Homo sapiens: one gene and its partners. The protein of the gene in region 1 purifies or fractionates together with the protein of each later gene. This does not show direct contact. Each region holds a gene or a part of one and is shown on either strand. Other genes may lie near its edges.

Evidence for each region.
Region 2: the proteins of PRSS22 (region 1) and TCP11L1 purify together in Homo sapiens (affinity purification with mass spectrometry; one large-scale study listed by BioGRID and IntAct). This does not show direct contact.
Region 3: the proteins of PRSS22 (region 1) and DDX19B purify together in Homo sapiens (affinity purification with mass spectrometry; one large-scale study listed by BioGRID and IntAct). This does not show direct contact.

What each region holds. Positions count from the first base shown.
Region 1 is NC_000016.10:2,852,095-2,855,188, reverse strand, and holds the end of PRSS22 (brain-specific serine protease 4 precursor), read left to right. Parts: intron 1-1,166; coding exon 1,167-1,324; intron 1,325-1,859; coding exon 1,860-2,096; 3' UTR 2,097-2,459; downstream 2,460-3,094. UniProt on the Homo sapiens protein: Preferentially cleaves the synthetic substrate H-D-Leu-Thr-Arg-pNA compared to tosyl-Gly-Pro-Arg-pNA.
Region 2 is NC_000011.10:33,045,936-33,049,588, forward strand, and holds part of TCP11L1 (T-complex protein 11-like protein 1), read left to right. Parts: intron 1-3,653.
Region 3 is NC_000016.10:70,326,533-70,330,185, forward strand, and holds part of DDX19B (ATP-dependent RNA helicase DDX19B), read left to right. Parts: intron 1-2,759; coding exon 2,760-2,937; intron 2,938-3,298; coding exon 3,299-3,536; intron 3,537-3,653. UniProt on the Homo sapiens protein: ATP-dependent RNA helicase involved in mRNA export from the nucleus.

The DNA of each region.
Region 1 (3,094 bases):
TTTTGTAGAGACAGGGTTTTTCTGTGTTGGCTGGGCTGGTCTTGAACTGTTGGGCTCAAGCAATCCACCAGCCTCAGCCTCCCAAAGTGCCGGGATTACAGGTGTGAGCCACTGTGCCTGGCCTCATTTCTACTTCAAAAGTATCTGGCTATGTTTTGAGGCAACAGCCAGACCCGTGAAGCTATTCAATTCATCAATACAGGAATGGCTGAAAGGGGGTGTGTGTGGGACTAAGCTGAATACAGGGTGAATATAAAGAGGCCTGATTCCAGAGTGGGAACAGGCACCCCCTGGTGGTAGCATGCCACAATTGCGGGCAAAATTCTCGGGAGAAAATGCAGCCACCTTAATTGTAAAATATAATTTTCAAACCACCACTGGAGGTTTGGAAAACATCATCTCAAAACTCAAACTAGATTACATAAAGCAAGAAGCAGGGAAGCAGCAAGAGAAAGGTAGATGACAGATCGACAGGCAGATGGATGATAGAGACTGGGCCAAGGAAAAGAAACATACAGGCAGAAATGAGGATACAATGAAGACCTGGAAGAAAGAGTTTGAAAGAGAGAGCTAGAGACTAAGTAATAACAAAGTGTAAGACAGATGAAAATTTAACCAGATTCCAGAATAATTAAGAGAAATGACACTAGCTCAGGTGTGTGGGGATCCCAGTAACTCTGAGGTTGCAACCTCTCCATGATCTCTGTAGGGGCTTCTTCAAGAGCTAGAATCGCGGACTTTCAGTCCACAATCTGCAGACCACAGTCTGTAGACCAGCTCCAGGCAAGGCGTGGGGATCCCTCAGGTCCTGGTAATTTTCAACATCGAGTGGACATTTATTGAACACTTCTTCTATAGCAGTCCCAGTGCTGGATGAAGTAATGCAGTATCTGAGACAGGAAGGGCTCTAACCATCTGTGGATATAAGAAAATTTATTAAAGAGGTAGGGTCTTAGGTTTCACATTCATGTTCTAATTCAGCAGGGCCAGAGGTGGAGACCTGGAATTTCAATTTTCTGAAGGCATCTTGGGAGAGACTGGTAGAGCTAATCTGTTAGCCTTTGAGAACCGCTGCTGAGAGGAATGGTGTTGGGGGGGAATAGTCCTTTGAGGAGGCAACGAGGAGGGGAGACCCCCAAACCTGATTCTGTCCTCTTTCCTCCCAGTTCCCTTGCCCCACCCTCAGACCCTGCAGAAGCTGAAGGTTCCTATCATCGACTCGGAAGTCTGCAGCCATCTGTACTGGCGGGGAGCAGGACAGGGACCCATCACTGAGGACATGCTGTGTGCCGGCTACTTGGAGGGGGAGCGGGATGCTTGTCTGGTGAGCTCCCTCGAGCCCCCCACCCCTGGCCAGGAGGGCCTCGGGAAGGAGCCAGCGTCAGTCCTGTCCCCACTGAGCCCCACAACCTCTCCCTGGCCTCCTCCCCAGAACTGGCTGTGCCTGACAGTCCCGGGTCCCCATAGAACCAGCCTCAGCCTGGCTCAGCCACTCACTTATTTGTTCAGACATTAAACTGGGCATCCCAGCTGCACCACCTCGCCCTCCGCGAGCTTTCATTTCCTTCAGGGGGCTTCCCACGCCTCAGTGCCCAGAGCCAGCTGTAGCTCAGGGGCTGTCTGGAAGACGGTCAGATGGTGCAGCGGCAGCACCCGCGCCTGGACGTCTTAAGGCCTGGCTGCAGCTCCTACTCTGCCGCCGGGGACTTCTCACCTGGGTGGAGCTCAGGTCCTGTCTCCTCCAGGAAGGAGAAACGGGCTCCCGGGAAGGGGCTCATCTGCCCCCTGACAGGGCACGGGCCCTGGATTCTGCCACCCCCTGTGCCACGGGGGTTCCTAACCTCGCCTCCTCTCTGCAGGGCGACTCCGGGGGCCCCCTCATGTGCCAGGTGGACGGCGCCTGGCTGCTGGCCGGCATCATCAGCTGGGGCGAGGGCTGTGCCGAGCGCAACAGGCCCGGGGTCTACATCAGCCTCTCTGCGCACCGCTCCTGGGTGGAGAAGATCGTGCAAGGGGTGCAGCTCCGCGGGCGCGCTCAGGGGGGTGGGGCCCTCAGGGCACCGAGCCAGGGCTCTGGGGCCGCCGCGCGCTCCTAGGGCGCAGCGGGACGCGGGGCTCGGATCTGAAAGGCGGCCAGATCCACATCTGGATCTGGATCTGCGGCGGCCTCGGGCGGTTTCCCCCGCCGTAAATAGGCTCATCTACCTCTACCTCTGGGGGCCCGGACGGCTGCTGCGGAAAGGAAACCCCCTCCCCGACCCGCCCGACGGCCTCAGGCCCCGCCTCCAAGGCATCAGGCCCCGCCCAACGGCCTCATGTCCCCGCCCCCACGACTTCCGGCCCCGCCCCGGGCCCCAGCGCTTTTGTGTATATAAATGTTAATGATTTTTATAGGTATTTGTAACCCTGCCCACATATCTTATTTATTCCTCCAATTTCAATAAATTATTTATTCTCCAGTGTCTGTTTTTTCCCATGCCTGGGGACACTGGAAAGCAAGGGTCCAGAGGGGGTTAAGGTTGGGGGTTGGATGTTGGCCTAGCCAGAGACTGCGTGGTCCTGTCCACCTGGGGCTGACGCCGACCCCTGCTTCCACCTAGGGTTCAGCCTTCTGACCCCTGACCTTTGCAGCCCTGGGCCACCCTCCCTTTTATCCCTCTCCCACCAGGGCAGGGCAGCCGATGGAGAAGGGGCAGAGTCTAGAGGCCTGGAAGACCCAGCTCTGGTGCTTCAGGAAGGGGAGGAGAGGGGTTGGGACTCCGAAACTGTGCGTTGGATTCCAAAACAGGGCTGGTGAGGAGAAACCCAGCCCCATGAGAGTGAGGTGCTACCTCTCTACCCCAGGCCAAGCCCCCCCTTCTGCTCTCTCCACCACAGGCCTCAGGGGCCTCAGGATGGCAGAGCTGCGGGTGGTGGTGGAGGGAGGCGCCCAGGTGAGCCCCATCAGAGCCCCGTCTCCGTGGGCTGGCTGTTGGGTCCTCATCCCCAGGAGCCGATTTGTCGAGCGACTCACTGCCAAAGCTCTAAACTCCCCAGTTTGGAAGAAGCAGCGGACAGTGGCAGGGCAGGCCTCTGGCTCTGCGGGCATCAGGGG
Region 2 (3,653 bases), on another chromosome or scaffold:
GAACATGTTCTGCTACTTGAGATAATGGGAAACATGTTCTAGTTTAAGATACAATAGATCTATGAGCCTAGGAGTGCTAGAAGCAAGGAGCCAGCAAGTCTAGACACATTCCAGAGGCCACGCCCTGAGCCCTGGATTCCATTCAAGCCACGAAGGGTTTTATGCCCTGGGCTTAGATTATGGTGCTGCAGGGCAGCCTTCTGCCCTTTAGCACAGAGCTTGGTGTTCCCAAGGCCATGAGGGGTTTTAGACCCTGGACCCTGGACATGTTCCAAGACTCTTTTACATTAAGTGAGACATGCAAGCCCTGCTTTAGCTTCTCCCAACAGTTGGTTGATTGGTTTTAATTTTTTTAAACAATTTTAACTTTTATAGGTTCAGCCATTCTTTGGTTGATGGCTTCGCCTTTGGCATCTTGTCAGCCTGATGGCATGATTCCAAATTAATGTCAAACCAGTACTAAGCTACATTATCTGAAATTGTGTGTAGTTATGCCCTTAAGGCAAGAATACTTATCCTGGGACCTATGATCAAGATTTAGGGGATCTAGTAATAACCAAAAAAGTATATCAACATTTGTTTGTATATGCATGTTTTTAGGAATAAGGTCGTGGAAGCTTTCATTAAGTTCTCTTAGTAGTCTGTACCAAAATAAGGTTTAAAATCAATGCCCTAAGGTATTCCTTTTGGCTGCCTTCCTATTTCTCCTGTAGTGCTAGGTAGGTACAGGGCTATAAACCCAAAAGATAAAGCTAAGACCTCATTATCTGGGCATCAGGTAAGGAAGCATTATTGAACACATAGAGCATAAATAAGGATTTACAAAATATGGAATTAACAGTTTACAGACATTTCCCCCAAACTCTGTAAATTTGTAGCTACTGAGTTTAAAGTAACTCTAAAATCATATTTGGAATTCTACAAATTAAAACGTAAGTAGCAAAAAGAGAACATTTATTGTTTTAAATTATAACACAGAGTAATACTTTAAGAGTGGAGTTGCTAGGCCAGGCGCATTGGCTCATGCCTATAAGCACTTTGGGAGGCTGAGGCAGGTGAATCACCTGAGGTGAGGTCAGGAGTTCGAGACCAACCTGGCCAACATGGTGAAACACTGTTTCTACTAAAAATACAAAAATTAGCCGGGAGTGGTGGTGTGTGCCTGTAATTGGGAGGCTGAGGCAAGAGAATCACTTGAACCTGGGAAGCAGAGGTTGCAGTGAACCGAGATTGTGCCATTGCACTCCAGCCTAGGGGACAAGAGCGAAACTTCATCTCAAGAAAAAAAAAAAAAGAGTAGAATTCTGATGTAACCGATGCAGAATATTGAAAAAGGAAAAATGGCTGGCTTGTAAAAAATTTATTGGTACTGATTTGAGGTGGTGATTTGATTGTAAAAGATTATCTGTTCTTTAAACAGAGTAAGGATCAGTCAACTGTAACTTAACAATGTTTTCTCTAAAATCTTCTACTACTTATACTTTAATGCTCTTCTCACAAAATACCCTCTGTTCTAACGTTTAATCACCTAGTTGACCAGTAAAAGATGCTATATTCAGATGACAAACATCAATTGTTATTCCAGTTAATATCTCCCACTTAGGACCTTTGTTTATTGGATCAGGTCCTTGTGAATTTAATTAGTAGATCCCAGTCATCTTTAGATGAATAGATGACACGAGAACTTACATTTCTAAAGCTCATGACTAGACTTTGAATTATGGTGTCTCTGTATTCAGTCAGTCAAATATTTATTGAGTGCATACTGTATGTCAGGGATCCAGCAGTGAACCAGGCACATATTGTCTCTGTCCTCATGGAGCTTGCAGGCTAGCGACCAGGAAGACAAATTAACAAGCAGTTTCCAACAACATAATAAGTACTATGGGTAATCTGTACCCTGGTTTTACTGTGCTCATTCTATAGTAGCTGTTTGGGTGACAGTTGCAATCTTGCCCTCCATAAATGTCCGTCCACTTATGTAACTAACAGCATCTTTTCAGAGTGTATAGGCATCTCAGGACACCTTAGTAAAGATAGAGAGTACAACCATTCTAAATTAGAACTTCATTTTATTTTGGAATCTGTCTGCCAGCCTCTCTAAAGTCATGTTTAACCTAATATGGTTTTCAGTTTCTCTAACAGGGCATCAGTGCGCAAATGCTGTAACAAAATAACAAAATTTAGCAACAACTTTAGCTTTGTATCACGTAAGATAAACTCCAGGGTAAGTTACATGTATCTTTACATTTTTTTTTTTTAAGACCGGATCACTCTATGTTGCCCAGGCTGGCCTTGAACTCCTGGGCTCAAGTGATTCACCCACCTCAACCTCCCTAGTAGCTGAGACTACAAGTGTGCACCACCATGTCTGAGTTGACCTTACCATTTTTCATGGCTCTTATTACAACCCAGGTTCTCTTAACAAATTGAGGTGAAGACGTGTTGTCCACCAAATTGCATCTTTATGCAATTTTATGCAATCCTTACCAAGTTTTCATTTATGAAATTGGTAAATTTGAGAACTCTCACAAAACAAAATCCCCACAACCCTATAATTTGTATGCAGTGAATAATTCCTCTGTATGTACATCGGTAACATGTCCTGATCATATCTTAGAACTGTAGCTTTTATCTATCATGATCAGATACCTGTCATTGATAAGTTTGATTTTAAGTAGTCTCTTAACTTGGACAGTTCCTGAAAATTTTCTTCTTCCTAATGGTGAGGTTCTTAGTACTTGGTGCAAGCTGTTTTTTTCCAAGTATGCCCAAAACACTGAGAATGCACTTGTTTAAAATTCGGAGGATTCTTATATTTCATAGCACACCCTTAAGTCTCTTCTTTTTGCATATGGAGAAACACTGACCCTGCAAGATTTAAGTGACTTGTTCAAGGCCGTACTCAACAGAGTCCAGAGGAAGTGAAATTCCTTCCTGATTTGCTCCAGCCACTGTGTTTCATGACTAGGCAGCATAGTAACGGTGCCTATTATTACCCAGATGACTAAAATTATTGGGAAATAACAAATCCGGCCAGGCGCGGTGGCTCATGCCTATAATCCCAGCACTTTGGGAGGCCAAGGCAGGTGGATCATGAGGTCAAGAGATCAAGACCATCCTGGCCAACATGGTGAAACCCTGTCTCTACTAAAAATACATAAATTAGCTGGGTGTGGTGGCACACGCCTGTAGTCCCAGCTACTTGGGAGGCTGAGGCAGGAGAATCACTTGAACCCGGGAGGCGGAGGTTGCAGTGAGCCGAGATCGCGCCACTGCACTCCAGCCTCGTGACAGAGCAAGACTCCGTCTCAAAAAAAAAAAAAAAAAAATTCACCCAGAGGACTTGATGTGATGTATTTCTGTTGTTTTCATAAATTTCAGATGGTAAGACATTGATTATTTTTGAAGGGGTGGCCTGCCCCTCCACAACCTGTGGGTGTTTCTCGTCATGTGGGACGAGAGACTGAGAAAAGAAATAAGACACAGAGACAAAGTATAGAGAAAGAAAAGTGGGCCCAGGGGACCTGCACCCTGTCTCTGAGTTCCCTCAGTATTTATTGATCATTATCTCTACCATCTTGGAGAGGGGGTTGTGGCAGGACAATAGTGTAATAGTGGGGAGAGGGTCAGCAGGAAACCTGTGAACAAAG
Region 3 (3,653 bases), about 67 Mb from region 1:
TTATTTTTATTTATTTATTTTAGAAACAGAGTCTTGCTCTGTCACTCAGGCTGGAGTACAGTGGCATGATCTTGGCTCACTGCAACCTCTGCCCTCCGGGTTCAAGTGATTCTCCTGCCTCAGACTCCCAAGTAGCTGGGATTACAGGTGCCTGCCACCATGGCTGGCTAATTTTGTATTTTTAGTACAGATGGGGTTTCACCACGTTGGCCAGGCTGGTCTCAAACTCTTGACCTCAGGTTATCCATCTGCCTCGGCCTCCCAAAGTGCTGAGATTATAGGTGTGAGCCACTGTGCCCAGACTTCTTTCTTTTTTTTTTGAGAGAGAGTCTCGCCCTGTCGCCCAGGCTGGAGAGCAGTGGCACAGTCTTGGCTCACTGCAAGCTCTGCCTCTGGGGTTCACACCATTCTCCTGCCTCAGCCTCCTGAGTAGCTGGGACTACAGGCGCCCACCACTACGCCCAGCTAATTTTTTGTATTTTTAGTAGAGACGGGGTTTCACTGTGTTAGCCAGGATGGTCTCTATCTGCTGACCTCGTGATCCTCCCGCCTTGGCCTCCCAAAGTGCTGGGATTACAGGCGTGAGCCACTGCGCCTGGCCGCCTTCTTTTTTTTATTTTGAGACAGTTTCGCTAGGTCACCTAGGCTGGAGTTCTGACTCCAGGCACGAGCCACCGTGCCTGGCCACACCCAGCTAATTTTCTAAAAATTTTTTTTGTAGGCCAAACATGGTGGCTCATGCCTGTAATCCCAGCACTTTAGCAGGCCGAGGTGGGTGGATCACGAGGTCAGGAGATAGAGACCATCCTGGCCAACATGGTGAAACCCCATCTCTACTAAACATAGAAAAATTAGCCAGGTGTGGTGGCATGTGCCTGTCGTCCCAGCTACTCAGGAGGCTGAGGCAGGAGAATCACTTGAACCCGGGAGGTGGAGGTTGCAGTGAGCCAAGATCGTGCCACTGCACTCCAGCCTGGGCGATAGAGCAAGACTCTGTCTCAAAACAAAACAAACAAAAAAAAACAAACAAATTTTTTTTTTTTTTGTAAAGACAGTGTCTTGCTATGTTGCCCAAGCTGGTCTAGAACTCCAAGTCTCAAGCAATCCTCCTGCCTCGTCCCCTCAAAGTGATGGGATTACAGGTGTGAGCCACTAGGCCAGGACTGAATTTGTTTAATTGCCTAATTTATTTATCTTCATTAGCAGAATAAAAACCCAGAATGTTTATGGCTATTGACTCTGGGGCTTATTCTGTTAATTATTTTTTGTTACTAATTTTTTCTACACTAGTTTGTTTTACAGTTAATATTATTTAAGTAATTTTAAAAGTGTTGTTGGCCGGACATGATGGCTCATACCTGTAATCTCAGCACTTTGGGAGCCTAAGGTGGGTGGATCATTGTAAGGTTAGGAGTTCGAGACCAGCCTGACCAACATGATGAAACCCAGTCTCTACTAAAAATACAAAAATATTAGCTGGGCATGGTGGTGCACACCTGTAATCCCAGCTACTCAGGAGGCTGAGGCAGGAGAATTGCTTGAACCCGGGAGGGGGAGGTTGCAGTGAGCCGAGATTGCACCACTGTACTCCAGCCTGGGCGACAGAATGAGATTCTGTCTCAAAAAAAAAAAAGTGTTAGAGGTTTGGTTGAGTTTTATGGATCTCTGAAACAAATGTGACCTTATGAAAATCAAGTCTGCATACAGTGTCCTAATGCCAACTTGAGGCCAGTTCTGAAAAGTAAATAATACAGTGAAACTTATTGGGAGATAATCATTTAAAATTTTGCAATTTGTATTCGAATTAGAAGGGTAGAGAATTCTGAATTTTTTTTTTTTTTTTTTTTTTGAGACAGAGTCTCAGTCTGTCTCCGGGCTGGAGTGCAGTGGCGCGATCTCGGCTCACTGCAACCTCCGCCTCCTGGGTTCAAGCGATTCTCCTGCCCCAGCCTCCCAAATAGCTGAGATTACATGAGCCCACCACCACACCCAGCTAATTTTTGTATTTTTAGTAGAGATGGGGTTTCGCCATGTTGGCCAGGCTGGTCTCGAACTCCTGACCTCAGGTGATCCGCCTGCCTCAGCCTTCCAAAATGCTGGGATTACAGGCATGAGCCACCGTGCCCGGCCCTTTTAGTTATTTTTAAATGTACAATATATTGTTGACTGTAGTCACCACATTGTGCTATCAAATGCTAGATCTTACTTATTTTAATTGTATTTTTGTACCCATTACCTTTTCAGCATTTTTGTCTGTTTTTATGTCCATTAAATGCTATAGTGATATCCTAACCTTTCCTTAATATATTAATGCAAACAGCAAAACATTTGCATTAAAATATATAATAGGTTTAGAATTTCTCAGAGAGAAGAGCTGGCTTTGCCTTTGAAATACCCATGGAGGCCGGGCACGGTGGCTCATGCCTGTAATCCCAGCACTTTGGGAGGCCGAGGCAGGTGGATCACCAGGTCAGGAGTTCAAGACCAGCCTGGCCAAGAGAGTGAAACCCACCTCTACTAAAAATACAAAAAAAAAAAAAATTAGCCAGGTGCAGTGGCAGGTGCCTGTAATCCTAGATACTTGGGAGGCTGAGGCAGGAGAATCGCTTGAACCTGGGCGGCAGAGGTTGCAGTGAGTCGAGATCATGCCATTGCACTCCAGCCTGGGCAACAGAGTGAGACTCTGTCTCAAAAAAAAAAAAAAAAAAAAAGAAAGAAAGAAATACCCACACATGGAAAACATCTTGGGGTCTCCACAGTGGAAAGAGGCCAGAAGATCAGTGAGCAGATTGTCATTGGCACCCCTGGGACTGTGCTGGACTGGTGCTCCAAGCTCAAGTTCATTGATCCCAAGAAAATCAAGGTGTTTGTTCTGGATGAGGCTGATGTCATGATAGCCACTCAGGGCCACCAAGATCAGAGCATCCGCATCCAGAGGTAGGGATCTCGAGGGTGGGGGACTCCTCAGATTCCCCATCTGCAGTGTCTTCTCCCTTCACTTCAGATGCCTCCTCTGGCTTCTGCCTGGGTCTTGGCTCTCGTACTCTCAGCAGCATTTGTTTGACGGGCCACTTCCGTGTCAGCGCTGGCCACAGTCCCTCCCAGCCTGGGTTGAGAAAGGAGACCTAGGGACTCTCCCCCAACCCCTGTCCCCATCCCAGGCCTGCTGCTCCTCCTCCCCAAGACGCTCCTCTCCCATCAGCCTTCCTGGGCATCTAGACCCTCCCAGCTGGGAAGGCTGTGCTTCTGTCGCTTCCCGGGGCCACCTGGGGCCACCTACCAGGGCCTTCCCTTGCAGGATGCTGCCCAGGAACTGCCAGATGCTGCTTTTCTCCGCCACCTTTGAAGACTCTGTGTGGAAGTTTGCCCAGAAAGTGGTCCCAGACCCAAACGTTATCAAACTGAAGCGTGAGGAAGAGACCCTGGACACCATCAAGCAGTACTATGTCCTGTGCAGCAGCAGAGACGAGAAGTTCCAGGCCTTGTGTAACCTCTACGGGGCCATCACCATTGCTCAAGCCATGATCTTCTGCCATGTGAGTAGCAGTGGCAGTGGCAGGCCTGGCCCTTCCCTCTCAGCCAGCTCCCCACAGGGCTCAGGAGGACTGGATGCCCCTGGGTGCCATGGGAAGAAACGAAGTGGTTTGTTCTCC